2 separate regions of the Homo sapiens genome follow, and region 1 is linked to region 2. The links come from fine-mapping of genetic effects on gene expression. Tissue or cell type: whole blood. Region 2 holds a variant in brackets; the other region holds the start of a gene. All regions are shown on one strand. Distances are between the middles of the regions.

The links. PIP is the estimated chance that this variant, and not a neighbour inherited with it, causes the effect.
Region 1: CAMK1D starts here. The variant in region 2 is fine-mapped to the expression of CAMK1D in whole blood (TOPMed, PIP above 0.99).

The regions. Positions count from the first base shown.
Region 1 is chr10:12,346,256-12,354,347 of GRCh38, forward strand. CAMK1D (calcium/calmodulin dependent protein kinase ID) reads left to right here and starts at 3,292. Exons shown (of 11, transcript NM_153498.4): 1 at 3,292-3,655. The coding sequence starts at 3,564. RefSeq lists silencers at 2,451-2,710, 2,751-3,310, 3,481-3,570 and enhancers at 3,607-4,106, 4,281-4,440.
Region 2 is chr10:12,824,186-12,832,286 of GRCh38, forward strand. It overlaps CAMK1D (calcium/calmodulin dependent protein kinase ID), which reads left to right. Exons shown (of 11, transcript NM_153498.4): 9 at 280-367; 10 at 1,388-1,505; 11 at 4,584-8,101. The coding sequence ends at 4,702. Among named protein-coding and RNA genes, the nearest start is that of MIR548Q, 100 kb to the left of the region's middle. The variant C/T (reference allele first, on the strand shown) is at 4,983.

The sequences.
Region 1 (8,092 bases), 480 kb before region 2:
GGTGGAGGTTACAGTGAGCTGAGATCACCGCACTCTACCGTGGCGACAGAGCAAGAATTTGTCTTAAAAAAAAAAAAAAGAAAATAAAGAAAAAAAAGAAGTATGCTTTTTCTTGAGGACCTCGTCCAGCTTAGAATAGCTTGATAATGCCAAATGAACATCATTACAGAAAGTCTGGAAAAGAAATAAAGCTCCCTACAGCAGTTCCACCAGTACAACAAATACCAAATAGCGGTCTTAACTCGATTTCATTTCTTTCTTTTTTTTTTTTTTTGAACAGAATATCACTCTGTTGACCAGGCTGGAGTGCAGTGGCATGATCTCGGCTCACTGCAACCTCTGCCTCCTGGGTTCAAGTGATTCTCCTGCCTCAGCCTCCTGAGTAGCTGGGATACAGGCGCACACCACCACGCCCGGCTAATTTTTGTAGTTTTAGCAGAGACAGGGTTTCACCATGTTGGCCGGGCTGGTCTCATACTCCTGATCTTAGGTGATCCGCCTGCCTCTGCCTCTTAAAGTGCTGGCATTTTACAGGCGTGAGCTGCCACGCCTGGCCTCAATTTCATTTCTTTATCCATTCGACACACATTTACAGATCAGTCAGTATGGGTAGGTTACCGTGTCAGGTGCTGGGAAACAGTGGCGAGAAAGTTAACAGGTGCCTTGCTCTCATGGAGCTTATAGCCTGGTAGGAAAAGTCACGGCCACAGGCCACGTGGAAGTTCTCATTTGCTTTCCCTTCATCTTTACTGTTCCTGTAAAATTGCCTTCTTTCTTTTTTTCTAATGGTTATTTTTATAGATTTAGGGGTACAAGTGCAGTTTTGTTACATGGATATATTGCGTAGTGGTGAGGTCTGGGCTTTTAGCTTAACCATCACCAGAATAGGGTACACCATGCCCATTAGTTAATTTCTCATCCCTTCCCCTACCCCACTCCAATGTCATTATTCCACACTCTCTGTCCACATATACACATTATTTAGCTCCCACTTCTTCTCCTTTTTTTTTTTTTGAGATGGAGTCTTGCTCTGTCGCCAGGCTGGAGTGCAATGGTGCAATCTTCGCTCACTGCAACCTCCTAGGTTACAGTGATTCTCCTGCCTCAGCCTCCTGAGTAGCTGGGATTACAGGCATGTGCCACCATGCCTGGCTAATTTTTATTTTTAATAGAGTTTCACCATGTTGGCCAGGCTGGTCTTGAACTCCTGACCTCAGGTGATCCACTGGCCTAGGCCTCCCAAAGTGCTGGGATTACAGGCGTGAGCCACCATGCCTAGCCTTAGCTCTCACTTCTAAGTGAGAACATGTGGTATTTGACTTTCTGTTTCTGAGTTATTTCACCTAAGATAATGGCCTTCAGTTCCAACTGCGTTGCTGCAAAAGACATGATTTCATTCTTTTTTATGGCCGGGTAGTAGAGAATCAGCACTTCTTCAGCTGTGGGGATAATAGCTGAGAATGAGAATTGTTTTCATGAGCTCTGGCGGCTGTTCCTGAGGCCAGGCAGCAAGGGCAACATAGCAGAGAACCAAATAGGAAAAGAGGAGAAGGAAACACAGTGGGAGGAAGGGAAGGAGAAAGAAAGGACAAGAAGATGCTGACTGTAGGCATGAGAAAGCGACAGTTGGGATCTTAGTTGACTTATGCCCTGGTTCCCACTGTTTGTATTATCTAACCTTTGGCACAAGTAAAATACATGATAGTTTTTCAAATGTTTCTTATTGAAGGGGATGCTGTTTGCCTTGAACTTTGGTAATGTGCCTCAAGTATAAGAGAGGTTCCTTAGTAATTCTTCTCACCCATCCGTGTTGGAAATTGGGTTTGTGGATTTATTCTACATCTAACCGGCAAGTAAATCCCCTCTTTGCTCTTCTCAGTTTGGAAAACCTTAAGCTAACCGTCTTTGAAAGATGGAAACTAGCATGGAGGTCCCAGGAATGGGGATGCCAGGGTGTCGTCTGACCTCTTTAGGGTCAGAGTAGGGGCTGAGGGAGAGCAGCTGGGCTGCCTCCACTTCAGCCAGAGTCAGAACTAGGCACAAGGTGCTGGATGAAGTTTCCTATTCAGGGAGCAGATTTTTTTTTTCCTTTTACAGTGAAATTGGAACAGTCCTGGGAAAATGGGACAGGTGTCCCCAGTCAAGAGACAGAGCTGTTTACCCAACTACGAGGAGAGGCCCTGAGGGAGGCGAAGTGTTGATACCAAGAAATCTAAAATTTTCCGATCAAGAGGTCGCCCCTGCAGGTTGGGGACCAGGGAACTGGAGCACGTGGGCTGCCCTCTGACAGGTGGACACCAGGAGTGGGGCGGGCAGGCCAAAGTACAGCTGGGAGATGGGAGTCCGGAGGGAATTCTCTGGGTTAGTTTTGGCAGTCCATAGGAAAGCAGGTGCCTGCCCCGCAACCCGGACACCCTACTAAGCCAGCCGCGGGTGGGCTCCTCCTTCGAGGGGACTGCGGGGCAGACGATCACTTCTTTCCACTGAGTCTCTGGGAGGAGACAGGGAGATGCCAGAAGGGGCCAAGCGTGAGCCAGGGCAACCAGGCCGGCCAGGCCCGCCGGCCGCTCCAGCCCAGCACCAGGGCGCCCGCGCGGCTGCCAAACACCCCCGGGAGTTTTGCTCGCAAAGGGACCACGAGGCAGCTGCTGGCGCGTCCTGCGCGTACCCGCCCAGAGGCTCCCCGGCTTGCTCCTCGCGGGTCTGTCCCGAAACTGACGTGAAACCGATTTGGTGCAATGCGAATGAGCTCCCGCCCGCCTCCGCCTCCATCCCAGCCGCCGCCGCCGCCCGTCGCCATAACAACCGGCCCCCACCCCCCCCACCCCACGCCTTGCCCCTCGGGTCCCCCGGGCCACAGGCCACAGCGCGGGAAGGCGCCCCGCCCTCGGCGCCCCGCATCCGGCCGCCGCGCACCCCCGCCCGCCCGGCGCTTCCGAGCCACGCAGAGGCGCCCCCTCCCGCCGGAGACGGGAAAGCCCCGGCGCCCCCAGACTGGGCTCCGTTTCCAGCTCCCGGAGGGGCTGGGGCTCTCCCGCGTGCGCCCCGCACCTGCCGGGGGCCCGTACCCGCCCTCGCCGGGGCTCCAGGGGGCACGACGGCCGTGGCCCGGCGCTCTTGGGAGGGGAGCGGGACATCCCCGAAGGCGGCGCGCTGGAGGCGGGGAGCGGCCGGGGCGCACGGAGAGGGCGGGGAGCCCGCGGGAGGGGGAGGAGGGGGAGGAGGGGGAGGAGGCGCGAGGTGGGGGGGAGCGCGGCGGGCGGCAGGGAGGGAGCGGGAGGGAGGCAAGAAAGTAGCAGAAAGTGAGGCTGGCAGGCGGCGGCAAAGGAGCCGGCGCGCGGCGGCGGCAGGAAGTCTGTGCCCGAGAACAGCAGAAATAAGAGCCAGGGAGGGACCGCGGCCGCGGCGGCGGCGGCGAGAGCGAAAGAGGAAACTGCAGAGGAGGAAGCTGCGCCGCAGCCCGAGCCGCCCGGCATCCCCGCCGCCTCTGCGCCCGCGCCGCGCCCCCGGCGCCCCCTCCCCAGCGCGCCCCCGGCCGCTCCTCCGCGCCGCGCTCGTCGGCCATGGCCCGGGAGAACGGCGAGAGCAGCTCCTCCTGGAAAAAGCAAGCTGAAGACATCAAGAAGATCTTCGAGTTCAAAGAGACCCTCGGAACGTAAGTGGGGACCGGGGAGGCGAGGGTGGAGGTGGCCGCGGCAGGGGCTGCACGGGCAGCTCCAGCTGCCGCCGCCGCCACTACCGCGGCAGAAACCCAGCCTGTCACCGCGTCCTCATTGTCCCGTTCTCGGCGCTGCGGAGCCCCCCCGAGCGCGCCCGACGCGTGGGCCTGCGACCCCCGGGTGGGCGCCGTTCCCGGGAGGGGGAGGGGGCAGCGCCGGGCTGTCAGGGAGCAGCCCACGCGGGCGCGCGACTTCCCACTTCTCCTGCCACCGCCGCCCTCTCCGCTGCCTTCTCCCCACGCGTGACTGTGGGCTGAGCATGGTGGGGATGGCTGTTTACCGGCTGTGTGCGTTTACTCGCCGTGTGCATGGGCGCACCGCGTTGGCGAGACGTGGTCACGAGAAGATCAGCCTCCAGTCGTTCCCATTTCTGTCCTTACATCATGTATTTCTATGGAATTGGCATCTGCACGTACGAGGTGTAGGCAAGACTTTGGGTGGCCACGCGAGGATGGAAGGGAAGGGCTTCGCAGTGCTCAGGGTCACACGTGGGCAGAGCCTCACCGGAGGGTCTGTGCATTTCACGCGGGCTCGGCCGCACGCGCCGGGGAGCGCGTCTCCAAGGGAGGGTCTGTGCGCGTCGCTGCGCGGGCGGTGCTCTCTCCGGGCTGCATCGAGTCCCATGCTGATGGCTGTGTCTCAAGAAAGCAGAAATAATCCGAAGTCGATGGCAGGAACGCTCCAAGCATGTGCTGCTCAGCTCAGCTGCTGTTCCCTTTCTGCCCAGGAGTTGGGTCTTGTTTGTTTTGTTTCGGAGCGGCTCAGAATAGGTGGGGAGGCTGATAGTGAAAGAGAATCAGGACCTGCCGAATGAGTCTGAAGTTCAAGTTATTTCCTTCCCTCACACAATCAGTATTTGCTCTGCATCAGTATCTGTCAGTGTGGATTCACGCACAGGTGTGCAGTCAGAAATGCCCATTTTGCAGGGGTTCATGGAGGTGTTGATTAGGCTGGGAAGAGAAAGGGGAGCTATTTCATGGGATAAATCAGTGCGTTGTTGGGTGCCCTTTCTTTCCTTCCTCCTTTTTTTCCGTGTGCTTGTTTTTGTGCTTGGTTTCTTTTTTCCAGCACCACATTACCCAGCTTGTCTTCACCTCCAGGCTCGGCGTCTGCTGCTGTTCAGTCATTTCCCCTCACCCCCACGCAGATCTGCAGGGGGTCCCCCGGAGAGAAGTTGTGAGGGTGGCTTTCCCAGTCCTGCTTCTGATTCCCGGGAAGGCGCACGCTGAGGACTAGAGTGGGGTCTCCCTGCTGTGGTTGTTGCCTTTCAGGGAGGGCACCTATTTGCTATCTTTGTTGGAATGAAAACAGAAAAAGATGTAGCTTTTTAATAAATAGGGGTTTGGGGTTGCCTCTTAGTGCAGCCAGGTAAGGGGTTAGTTTGGGTCAAAACTTTTGAAAATTGCCACTGAGGTTTATTCGGGTTTGGGGTTGTGATTCTGAGATGCTCAAGTTACTGAGAGACAAGAAAGCATGGCCTTTGCTTGTCATCCAGGACCCGCACTGTGGCCGCCAATGAGGAGATGGGAGAGCATGGGGACCCACCCTGTGTGAATGCTTTCCTGTCCGTGGCTTGTTCCCACCCGAGCCCCCCACACTGGCTTCCTGCCTGTAGCCTCCGGGTGACTGATGCCCTGTCCCCTGACTGACTCGTGCAGCTGCACCTCTGCAGTGGCGGGGCTGCTGAGGCTCCAAGCTGTGGCTCCTGCTGGAGCATGGTGTTTGGAGATGACTGTGGGTGGTTTCCACCTTGGGGAAAAATGGGGATTTGCCCTCTGGTGCCAGAGCGCTTCTCTGGCAGAACAGCCTCTTGGACTCCAGCCATGTTCCCTGTGAGCTTTGGGAATGGGTCTCTCTTAGGGTCCTAAAGCATTGCCTTCTGCCTGGGATGGAATTCTTTGCAAAGGAGCTTCCCACTGTAGCACTGGCATTGGACCTAGAAGAATGATAGAAACAGTGTGATGATCAAGATGTTTTTACTCCACATAATAATCATGGTAATCATAGGTGGTATTCTGAAATGTATACCCAGGATCAGGTATTATTCTACGTGCCTTATGTGTATTAACTCATTTAAATCTCAGAGTAACCTTATGAGGTAGGTATTTACCATTACACCCAATTTGCAGATGAGAAAACTAAGGCAGCAGAGATAATTATGTGAGCTACCAAACCTTAGCTAACTATTAAGTGGCGGAGCTGGTATTCACAGATAGGCAGAGCAACTTTTGATTGTCCATACAGGGTTGACACACTTTGTAGATCCTGTAATGGCCAATGCTTAGTCAATAATTTGACTTAACTTTAGTATTTGGAACGCGAACTTTAATATTAATGTAAAGAAAACATAATGGGCTGGGCGTGGTGGCTCACACCTGTAATCCCAACACTTTGGGAGGCTGAGGCGAGCTGATCACTTAAGTCAGGAGTTCGAGACCAGCCTGGCCAACATGGTGAAACCCTGTTGCTACTAACAATAACAAAATTAGCCGGGTGTGGTGGTGTGTGCCTATAATTCCAGCTACTCGGGAGGCTGAGGCAGGAGAATCGCTTGAACTGGGGAGGCAGAGATTTCAGTGAGTTGAGATTGCGCCACTGCCCTCCAGCCTGGGCCACAGAGTGAGACTCGGTCTCAAAAAAATAAAATAAAATAAATGAGAAAACATAATGATGGCAATAATGATAGCATAATGTTATCTAAACTTGGAAAACTTGGAAGCATTTCAGAGCTTTTGGATTGTCGTCCTTTTGCTTCTGTGGACTTTCTTTTTTTTTTTTTTGAGACGGAGTCTCACTCTGTTGCCCAGGCTGGAGTGCAGTGGCGCAATCTCGGCTCACTGCAAGCTCTGCCTCATGGGTTCACGCCATTCTCCTGTCTCAGCCTCCCGAGTAACTGGGACTACAGACGCCCGCCGCCATGCCTGGCTAATTTTTTTGTATTTTTAGTAGAGACGGGGTTTCACCGTGTTAGCCAGGATGGTCTCGATCTCCTGACCTCATGATCCGCCTGCCTCGGCCTCCCAAAGTGCTGGGATTACAGGCGTGAGCTACTGCGCCCAGCCGCCTCTGTGTACTTTCTAGAAGTGGTCCCCAGTTCAAGATGCCTGCTCCACCCTGGGCCATGACCGGTGACTCTGGCCCGAGTCTTAATGTGGAGTTGACTTCTGGTCCCTTCAGTGGGGATTTTGAGTCTGGGCCCTTCTCTTGTTTTGAATGAAATCTAACACAAATGAAAGGCATCGACAATTAACCACTGGCATTCATTTCCAAAGTATGCCGCAGTTCCAGTCACTTTGTTTGCCCTACTTTCTCCCTACGTCTTTAAGATACGAAGGCAGGAAAGCCTTGTAAGAAGCAGGGCTGTCAGCTCACAATGTTCACATGTATTTAAAATAAAGCATTGCAAAGGCTGGAGGAGCACTCATTTTGCCAGACTTTGTAATCTGATATCCACTGCCTTATCCAGGTATCTCACCTCATGGAGCCGAGCATTTACTGTTGGAAGCTAAGGGGTCAAGGCGGTTAGGCTGTATGGTTAGAGGGACCTTGCTGGAGAGTGGGGGCCGAATGGGAGTGAAGGTTGGCCCAGGAGGGTGGAAAATGAGATTGAGGAAGCAAAGAGCAGCATAAGAGAAAGGACTGGGCTTTGTGGTCTGGCCTGGGTTGTCTGATGCACCTCTGAGTCAGGTCTCAGGGACAAACCTTTCAACCTGTGCGCTTCAGTGCAGCCTCCTACAAAAGGGAATCCCAGAACATAACCATATCTCTGAATAAGGTGGTGAGACTTAATTATTGTCTATTAATCAACATGTTTTCAGACCCTTGGCACACTATGAGAACAAATAAATGTTATGTAATGGCAAATTAGGAGGGGTACACATTTCTGTTGGTGTATTTGCCAAGGCTGTTCAGGCCGTCCCTATCGTAGCTATCTTTCAGTGACTACTGAAGCAAAAAATAAAAAAACCCCTAAAATACTATTCGGAGAAGTATATGGATGGGAGGAAAGCTTCGGTGTGGTGTCTAGGAAGCACCCTAGACTCATAGAAGTCACTTCTGCAATTTCCAGGCTGTGAAATGTATGTGAATGGAAAGGCCTGGGTACTTGGCACGTGGCAGAATGAGTCTCCCAACAAACCTCATTTCCCCTGGAGTACAGAACATGGCATGCCCTAGAAAATGGATCTTCATCTCCGCGGGATATGAATGCATGTTTTTCGTGTAGACTGAGCATTTGAAGTTGAAGTTGTTCCTGTCTGTAGATGGCTGGACAAGGCATCGTGGAGGATTTGAGACTGGGTTTTAGGTCTGGTTCAGCCATGAGGGGTTTTGTGGCCTGTGGACTGCTTGGACATTGACCTACATTACCTTCT
Region 2 (8,101 bases):
AATGAGAGCCGGGGAGTAGTCAACCAGGAGGGCGCTGGCGGGTCTGGGGAGGGTGCGGAGTGTAGAAGCTGGAATAGGACTTTGTGGTGAGGGGTTAGAATGGGTGGGTTTAGGGAATGGCCAGGTGATGACATCAGCAGCCTGGAAGGGCAGCGGCCAGCCACCCTGTCCACGACTGAGCCTCGGCTCTCCTGAGGCTAGGTAAGACTCCCCTTTATGGGACGCAGTGTCAGGGCCCAGAAGAAGCACTTCAGAGCAGCACCTTTGCCTCTGTTTCAGGATCGCTGGTGACACAGCCCTCAACAAAAACATCCACGAGTCCGTCAGCGCCCAGATCCGGAAAAACTTTGCCAAGAGCAAATGGAGAGTAAGTGTGGAGTATATGAAATTCCCCGTGGATTAACCCCCTCGTGACACTGGCCCTCCAATCTGAGCATTTCTGAAATCCCCAGAACCTCACCTGAATAATTTTGCTAATTTTAACTGCAAGTAATAAAGACTCAGAGGGAATATTATGGTGTAAGAGGGATGGAGTGTGCAATTCAACACTTCCCCTCTGTGATCAAAGACAGCAATAGTGCCAGCTCTTCCTCATCTGCTGTTTCTTAACCAACATCACCCTTGTCTTTCTTCACCTTGCTAGAACTTTGAATAGCTGACTTTTATTAAAGCGATATGGAGGGGGAAAAAACAGGAAATCTGAGTTGTACTCATCAATGTTTCCTGATAAAAGTTTGACAGATTTAAACCATGGAGGTTTTGTGATCATCTGTTGATTACCTGACTTCCTAATCTCTTGATTACCTGACCTCCCCTCCGTGTTCCAATCAGCAATGGCAATTCAGAGCTAGCTATTTTGCCATGAGGGCCAATGGTGAAAGATGAGACGGAAACAAAATTAATTTTGCTGGCCTGCTGTATTCATAGGACATGCTATCATTAGGTTGGCGCAAAAGTAGTTGTGGTTTCTTCCATTAAAATTGCCATTACTTTTGCACCAACCTAAATCTTTCAGACAAAAGTACCAATACTAGGAAAATAAAAACTATTTTCAAATCTCACATTTTTAAGGTATTATAATATGCCTTTTATTCTAAAGGCCACATCTCTTAAATTACAGAGAGAATTGGTTTATGTTTATTCTATGTATTTATGATGTCAGAAGAAAACTATTTTAAGTCTCTAAAATATTTAGTTGGGGAAAGGGGTTAATAAATCAGTGCACTTTTAGAAGAAGGGACAACATAAGCTTTCCTTCTTGAGTAGCATGAGAATGATGTAAGGAGTTTGAAATGCTTAGGCTAATGTGATAAACAAGAGAACACAGTTAGAGTCTTTTCCGATTAGCTGAAATATTTGTCTGCTTTTTTCCTTTCTGAAATTTCAGCAAGCATTTAATGCCACGGCCGTCGTCAGACATATGAGAAAACTACACCTCGGCAGCAGCCTGGACAGTTCAAATGCAAGTGTTTCGAGCAGCCTCAGTTTGGCCAGCCAAAAAGACTGTGCGTATGTAGCAAAACCAGAATCCCTCAGCTGACACTGAAGACGAGCCTGGGGTGGAGAGGAGGGAGCCGGCATCTGCCGAGCACCTCCTGTTTGCCAGGCGCTTTCTATACTTAATCCCATGTCATGCGACCCTAGGACTTTTTTTAACATGTAATCACTGGGCTGGGTGCAGTGGCTCACGCCTGTAATCCCAACACTTTGGGAGGCTGAGGCAGGAGGACTGTTTGAGTTCAGGAGTTTTAAGACCAGCCTGACCAACATGGTGAAACCCCATCTCTACTAAAATATAAAAATTAGCCGGGTGTGGTGGCGAGCACCTGTAATGTCAGCTACTTGGGAGGCTGAGGCAGGAGAATCACTTGAACCCAGGAAGCGGAGGTTGCAATGAGCTGAGATCACACCACTGCACTCCAGCCTGGGTGACAGATTGAGACTCCCTCTCAAAAAAAAAAAAGAAAAATCATTGAACACTCGTGGAACCCTAGGTATTGCTATTTCCATTTACAGTTGAGGAATCCAGGGCTCAAGTCCTCGCAGCCATGTCTGTCTGGATAAAGGCCTGGACTCTTTCTCATCTCCATCCTTCCCTCTGATTTACCTCTCATTGTACAGTCACTCTTGCGGATTGAGGAAGGGAGAGCAGAGCCTCAGGACAGCCTCCTGCCATTGACTTCCATAATGTATATATTTTGGATGCAGACAATGATAATTTGAGCTCATTTATGTGAAGTGCATTGACTTTGCAATAAAAGTAATAGTATTTCATTGTCCTTCGTCTTTGCATGGGCTATTCCATCATCGAAGGCACACTTACTCTCTCCTTATCTCTCTCCCCAACTGCTCCTCTCTCTGTGGAAATAATCCCGTTTGGCCCTTCCCATGGGTCCTCTCCACATCAGAGCAGTGGCCCTAATCTCCCTAACCATGGAGCAGCCCTGCAGCCTGGTCTCACCCTGGGCATCATGCTCCTTCCCATTTGGCTCAGAAAAGGATTCCCTTCCTCTCTAAGGAATCTTCCCATCTCATTTGGGACCATCCAGCCCTTAAATTTTCCCAAGAAATCTCTGTGAGTGTCCCCTGACATACCATAGCTCCCCTTTCACCCTGAATCTTTTCCACCCTCTGGTCAAAGGGAACCCCACGATGGATCCCTTCTTTACAGATTCATACACTGGCATCGGCAGCAAAGCCCGTCGGGAGCACTCCTTGTATGGCTGTTTGTCCCCATGTCTGAGCACACAGACTCCCTGGGGGCCTGCACCAACAAGCTCAGTGGCGGCTGAGGCCTCTCATATCAAGGCTTTTGATGCCTGCACATCCTCTGGGGGAGGGCTTCAGCGCAGCCTCTGAGGAGCTCCACTAGGCCAGGGACTGCTGAGCTCACACAGGAATAGGTGAACATCTCTATTCTTGCTCTTTTTTCTTTTCTTTTTGCTTTCCTTTCTTTTTCTTTCCCTCCTTTATTTCCCTCCTTCCCTCTCTCTTCTCTCTTTTCTTTTCCCTCCCTGCCTCCCTCCTTCCTTTCCTTCCTTCTTTCCTTCCCTCCCTCCCTTCTTTCTTTCTTTTTCTTTCCTTCTCTTTCTTTTCTTTTTCTTTCTTTCTTTCTCTCTCTTTTTCTTTTCTTTCTTTCTCTCTCTTCTCTTCCTTCCTTCCTTCTTCCTTTCTTTCTTTCTCTTTCTTTCTTTTTCTTTCCCTTCCTTCCTTCCTTTCTTCTTTCTCTCTTTCTTTCCTTCCTTCCTTCCTTCTTTCTTTCTTTCTTTTCTTTCTTTGTCTGTCTGTCTTTCTTTCTTTCTTTCTTTCTTTCTTTCTTTCTTTCTTTCTTTCTTTCTTTCTTTCTTTCTTTCTTTTCTTGTCTTTCTTCTCCTCTCCTCCACTAACCTGCCCTGCCCTGCCCTGCCTTGCCCTGCCTTCCCCTCCCCTCCTCTCTCCTCTCTCCTCTCTCCCCTCTCCCCTCTCCTCTCTCCTCTCTCCCTTCTCCCCTCTCCTTTCTCCTCTCTCCTCTCTCTTCTTCTCTCTTTCTCTCACTCTCTGTCACCCAGACTGGAGTGCAGTGGCACAGTCACGGCTCACTGCAACCTCAACCTCCTAGGCTCAAGTAATCCTCCTGTCTCAGCCTTCTGAGTAGCTGGGACAACAGGCATGTACCACCGTGCGCAGCTAATTTTTGTATTTTTTGTAGACCCAGGGTTGCCCCAGCTGGTCTGGAACTCCTGAGACTCAAGCGATCCACCCACCTTGGCCTCCCAAAGTGTTGAGATTACAGGCGTCAGCCACCATACCCTTATTTCAAAGTGCTCTGCGTCACAAAATGCTTTCTAGCCAAGAGTGTACACAACACACCAACCAAGGGTAGGAAGGTAGTATCATTCTTTATTCCTTCTTAAAATACCTGCTTTACAGAGCTATTATAAGAAGTGGACAATTCGTATGATGACAGTATGTAGTCAACACTAGCCTGGTGCCTGCTACATATTAAGTGCTCAGTACATGGAACCTGTTGTACCACAGTGGTGAAACCATGTTGTTTTCAAACACAAAGCAGTTAAAATTACACCAAAAAAAAGGAGAGGAGAGGTCTAAGAATAAAGCATTTTGAACCCATTGCAAAGGCTTTCCCACAGGTAGGTAAAAATAGTCACACGGGTAAAAATTTGGGTCCCCGCAAGTTGGGCGCGGTGGCTCACACCCGTAATCCCAGCACTTTGGGAGGCTGAGGTGGGTGGATCACCTGAGGTCAGGAGTTCGAGACCAGCCTGGCCAACATGGTGAAACCCCATCTCTACTAAAAATACAAAAATTAGCCCGGCGTGGTGGTGAGCCCCTGTAATCCCAGCTACTCGGGAGGCTGAAGCACGAGAATCGCTTGAACCTGGCAGGCAGAGGTTGCAGTGACCCGAGATCGTGCCACTGCACTCCAGCCTGGTGAAAAGAGTGAAACTCCATCTCAAGAAAAAAAAAAAATTGGGCCCCCCCGCCCCCCACCATAAACCCAGCCCCTCTGACACCTGGCAGTGGGAAGCAGGGTGAGAATTTACCTCTGAAACTCTGAAGCCCACTTCTGCTGTTCCCTGCAGGTCTGGCACCTTCCACGCTCTGTAGTTTCATTTCTTCTTCGTCGGGGGTCTCAGGAGTTGGAGCCGAGCGGAGACCCAGGCCCACCACTGTGACGGCAGTGCACTCTGGAAGCAAGTGACTGGCCCTGGAGGTGGGGCCCGGGGTCGGGGCTGGGGAAGGGGAGCCCCAGGGTCGCCAGAGCCGCGAGCCACTCCAGCGAGACCCCACCTTGCATGGTGCCCCTTCCTGCATAGGACTGGAAGACCGAAGTTTTTTTATGGCCATATTTTCTACTGCAATTCTGAAGTGTTCATTTCTCACAAACTGTACTGACTCGAGGGGCGCTGATTTCATAGGATCTGGTGCTGTATATACGAATCTTGCAAAGCTCTAACTGAACGGACCTTCTTATTCCTCTC[C/T]CCTAACACCATCGTTTCCACTCTTCTCAGTGTAGGTAACCGTCTATGGTGTGTTTTTTCATTAATGACAAAAAAAAAAAGGTTTCAACTGGATTATTTAAATATTGGTAAATATTGTGCATTAGGGTTTGTTTTTCCTTTTAAGAAGTATGTCCTTTGTATCTCTAAGTTACATGACCTATATCTTTTCCTCTTTAATAGTAGTTTTATGTTAACCTTTAAGAGATTTGTTTTTCCTCAAAGGAGAATTTAAAGGTATTTTTTAAAATTCTAATAAGAGGATCAGCCGGGTGCAATGACTCATGCCTGTAATCCCAGCACGTTGGGAGGCCAAGTCGGGCGGATCACAAGGTCAGGAGATCAAGGCCATCCTGGCCAACATGGTGAAACCCCACGTCTACTAAAAATACAAAAAATTAGCCGGGCGTGGTGGCACACACCTGTAGTCCCGGCTACTCGGGAGGCTGAGGCAGGAGAATTGCTTGAACCCGGGAGACGGAGGTTGCAGTGAGCTGAGATCGTGCCACTGCACTCCAGCCTGGGTGACAGAGCAAGACTCTGTCTCAAAAAAAAAAAAAAAAATTCTAACAAGAGGATCATGAATCTGTCTCCAAGGCTAAGAGTGCCCTTCACCTCTACTCCTTCTGTTTCTCTCCCCTTCCCCAGGAGGAGGGGCCCCTCAGTTCTGCGAGGCTCTCTTCTCTGCGGGGGACTTTGGTAGAGAATCTGCACAGAGCCTTTGCTGGCAACCCATCCAGCAGAACCCACACCCACCAGAGACCCTAGAGGCCTCTTGCCATCAGCAACCAGAAATAAGCCTGCTCCCCCGAGACGCAGGGCTCAGCTTCACAGGCCAGACTTGCTGTGAGTGAGATGCCCACACTGCAGAGATGCAGGACCCTCCCTTGCAAAAGGAACCAGCTGCCATGTTGCTGAAAGTGGGCCCACACACAACCCTCATTTCTCACGAGAGCTAACAGATGAAAGCTCAGCTATGCAGTGTTAAAATTCATCTCTTTCTCTGTGGTTTTTAAAAAAATGCATTTCTAATCTTACACTTCACGTGGCCTCCAACACAAAGTTCTTTCTCCACATTTTTACCCTCTTCTCACATGAATGTTTTCCAAGGGAAGGAAGGGAGGGAAGCAGCCTTGGGAAAGGATCCATTTCTGGTGGTAAGGAGAGGGGGCCCTGCCAGGCTAATGGGACTTCAGCCACCACAGAGATGACCAAAGACCACCTCCGCCAGGCCCAGCCAGTGCTTGCAGCCCTCCCATTGGTCAGGGGAGTCTAAAATCAAAGATACATGGTGGTAGGGTCACCAAACGTCCCATTTGCCCGAGACTGAAGGATTTCTCAGGCTGTGGACATTTAATGCCAAAACCAGGAATATCCGGGGCAAAGCAGGCTGTGTTGTTCGCCTTTGTGGAGCCAGGCAGTGTGTGGCCCAGGGAAAGCTGCGTTTCATGGAGGCTTCCAGGAGGCTGCCCTGTAAAGCCAGGCAGGTGGCTTCAAGTGCCATTCCTGCAAGTGCCCCTGCTTCAGCTCTCAGGCCCATCCAATGCCTCGAGCCCACGGGGGTGTCCCGGCAGGTCTGCGTCATCACGACCCAGTAACGCTGCTGGCTGTGTCCTCATGCCCTCTTCCTCTGGCTGGCCAGTCATGGGAAGTCCTGTTGGTTGAGTCATCTTTGTCACTTCTACACCTTTGAGTATGTACAGGCTGAATGTTGAGTGATGCCCCCCCACCCTCTCAATAAACACACACACACACACACACACACACACACACACACACAATGTTATTAGGCACAGCAGCTCCATCCTGCTCCCTGAGAATGGCAGTGCAGGCACAGAGAAGAGCAGTTGGGAAGACAGGCAGCTGGTCTACCCTGTCCCCGCACACTTCACAGGCACTCCACTGCTTGGCAGGAATTCTGCATGGCATCTGCCACGCATGCTCACAGGGTGAAAAATCAAGCTGTCACTCTGCAAAATCTAAAAACCCTGGAAAGGTCTATAAGATGACATTAGACCCAGTTAAGAAGCAAGTGTCACCTGAGTTGGCCATGCAATGAATGAATATTATAAGCAGTATTGGAGAACTAGGCGGTTGCTTACTAAGAAGTGTCTTGGAAACATTCGAGTTCATACAGTGCATGACAAAGTAATAGAAGGCTGCAAGCGCTGAAAATGCACCCGAATCTGGTACCTAGGATGAGTACATGAATAGTGATGAATAGCCCTTTGTGCTGTGTGCTATATACAACCATTTGCATTCAGAAAGCAGCATTTGAAGCTGAGTTCCATTACTGGTGATTGAAGTATTTTCAGGAGCAGATACATGTGGTGCATGTTATATGCACTTAGTTTGAAAGTATCCCTCACCCAAAAAGTGCAGAACCTCTGAAAGGTGAGCCGTGGTGCAGGTGCCCCCCTCGCTGTTCGGGTCAGTTCTTGGCCATGCTTGGCCTGTCACACGCCGGGTCTCAACAACATCGTGCGAGGAGACAGTGACTGGTTTCAGCCCAAGAGTCAACTGTTGAGCATGACATCAGGAAGCCTGTACTGTCCTGATCCCACCAGGCTTGGGTTAATTTCCTATTGCTTCAGAGAAAGAGAGGCGCTCTTGTGCTTTTGAGAGAGCTCTCATGTTAAAAAGAGGTTGTCTTTGCACTGCGCTTGGTATGATTTGTTTTCTTATAAAACAGGAAGAGAACCTAGAATGTGCCTTTCGTGAAGGTCTGACAAATGGGGTCTCAGAGTCCTAGGACCCGCACCAAGGTCAGAGTCCACCTGTAGAGGCTGAGCATTTCTACATGCACCCAGGGTGCTGGGCTGAGGCTAAGGGTGGACGCGTAGACCCCATCACAGGCTTCCTTCCTGAGCCCAAGTCCCCCATTTGGTCACTATCCCTTCTCAGAGCAAGTGGATTCTCTTTTCCTCACTTGGAGTATTCAATGTTGAAGTAGTGGCCTGGAGTGGCCTTTCCCTCAGCTGCCTGTCTGGGCTCCCTGGCTTCCCGGATCTTCATCTCATACGTGAGGCAATAGGAGGAGTTTCTATTCATTGAGACAAACAGTGAGCGGGCACCAACAGGCCAGCAGCTTGGCCCTTTTC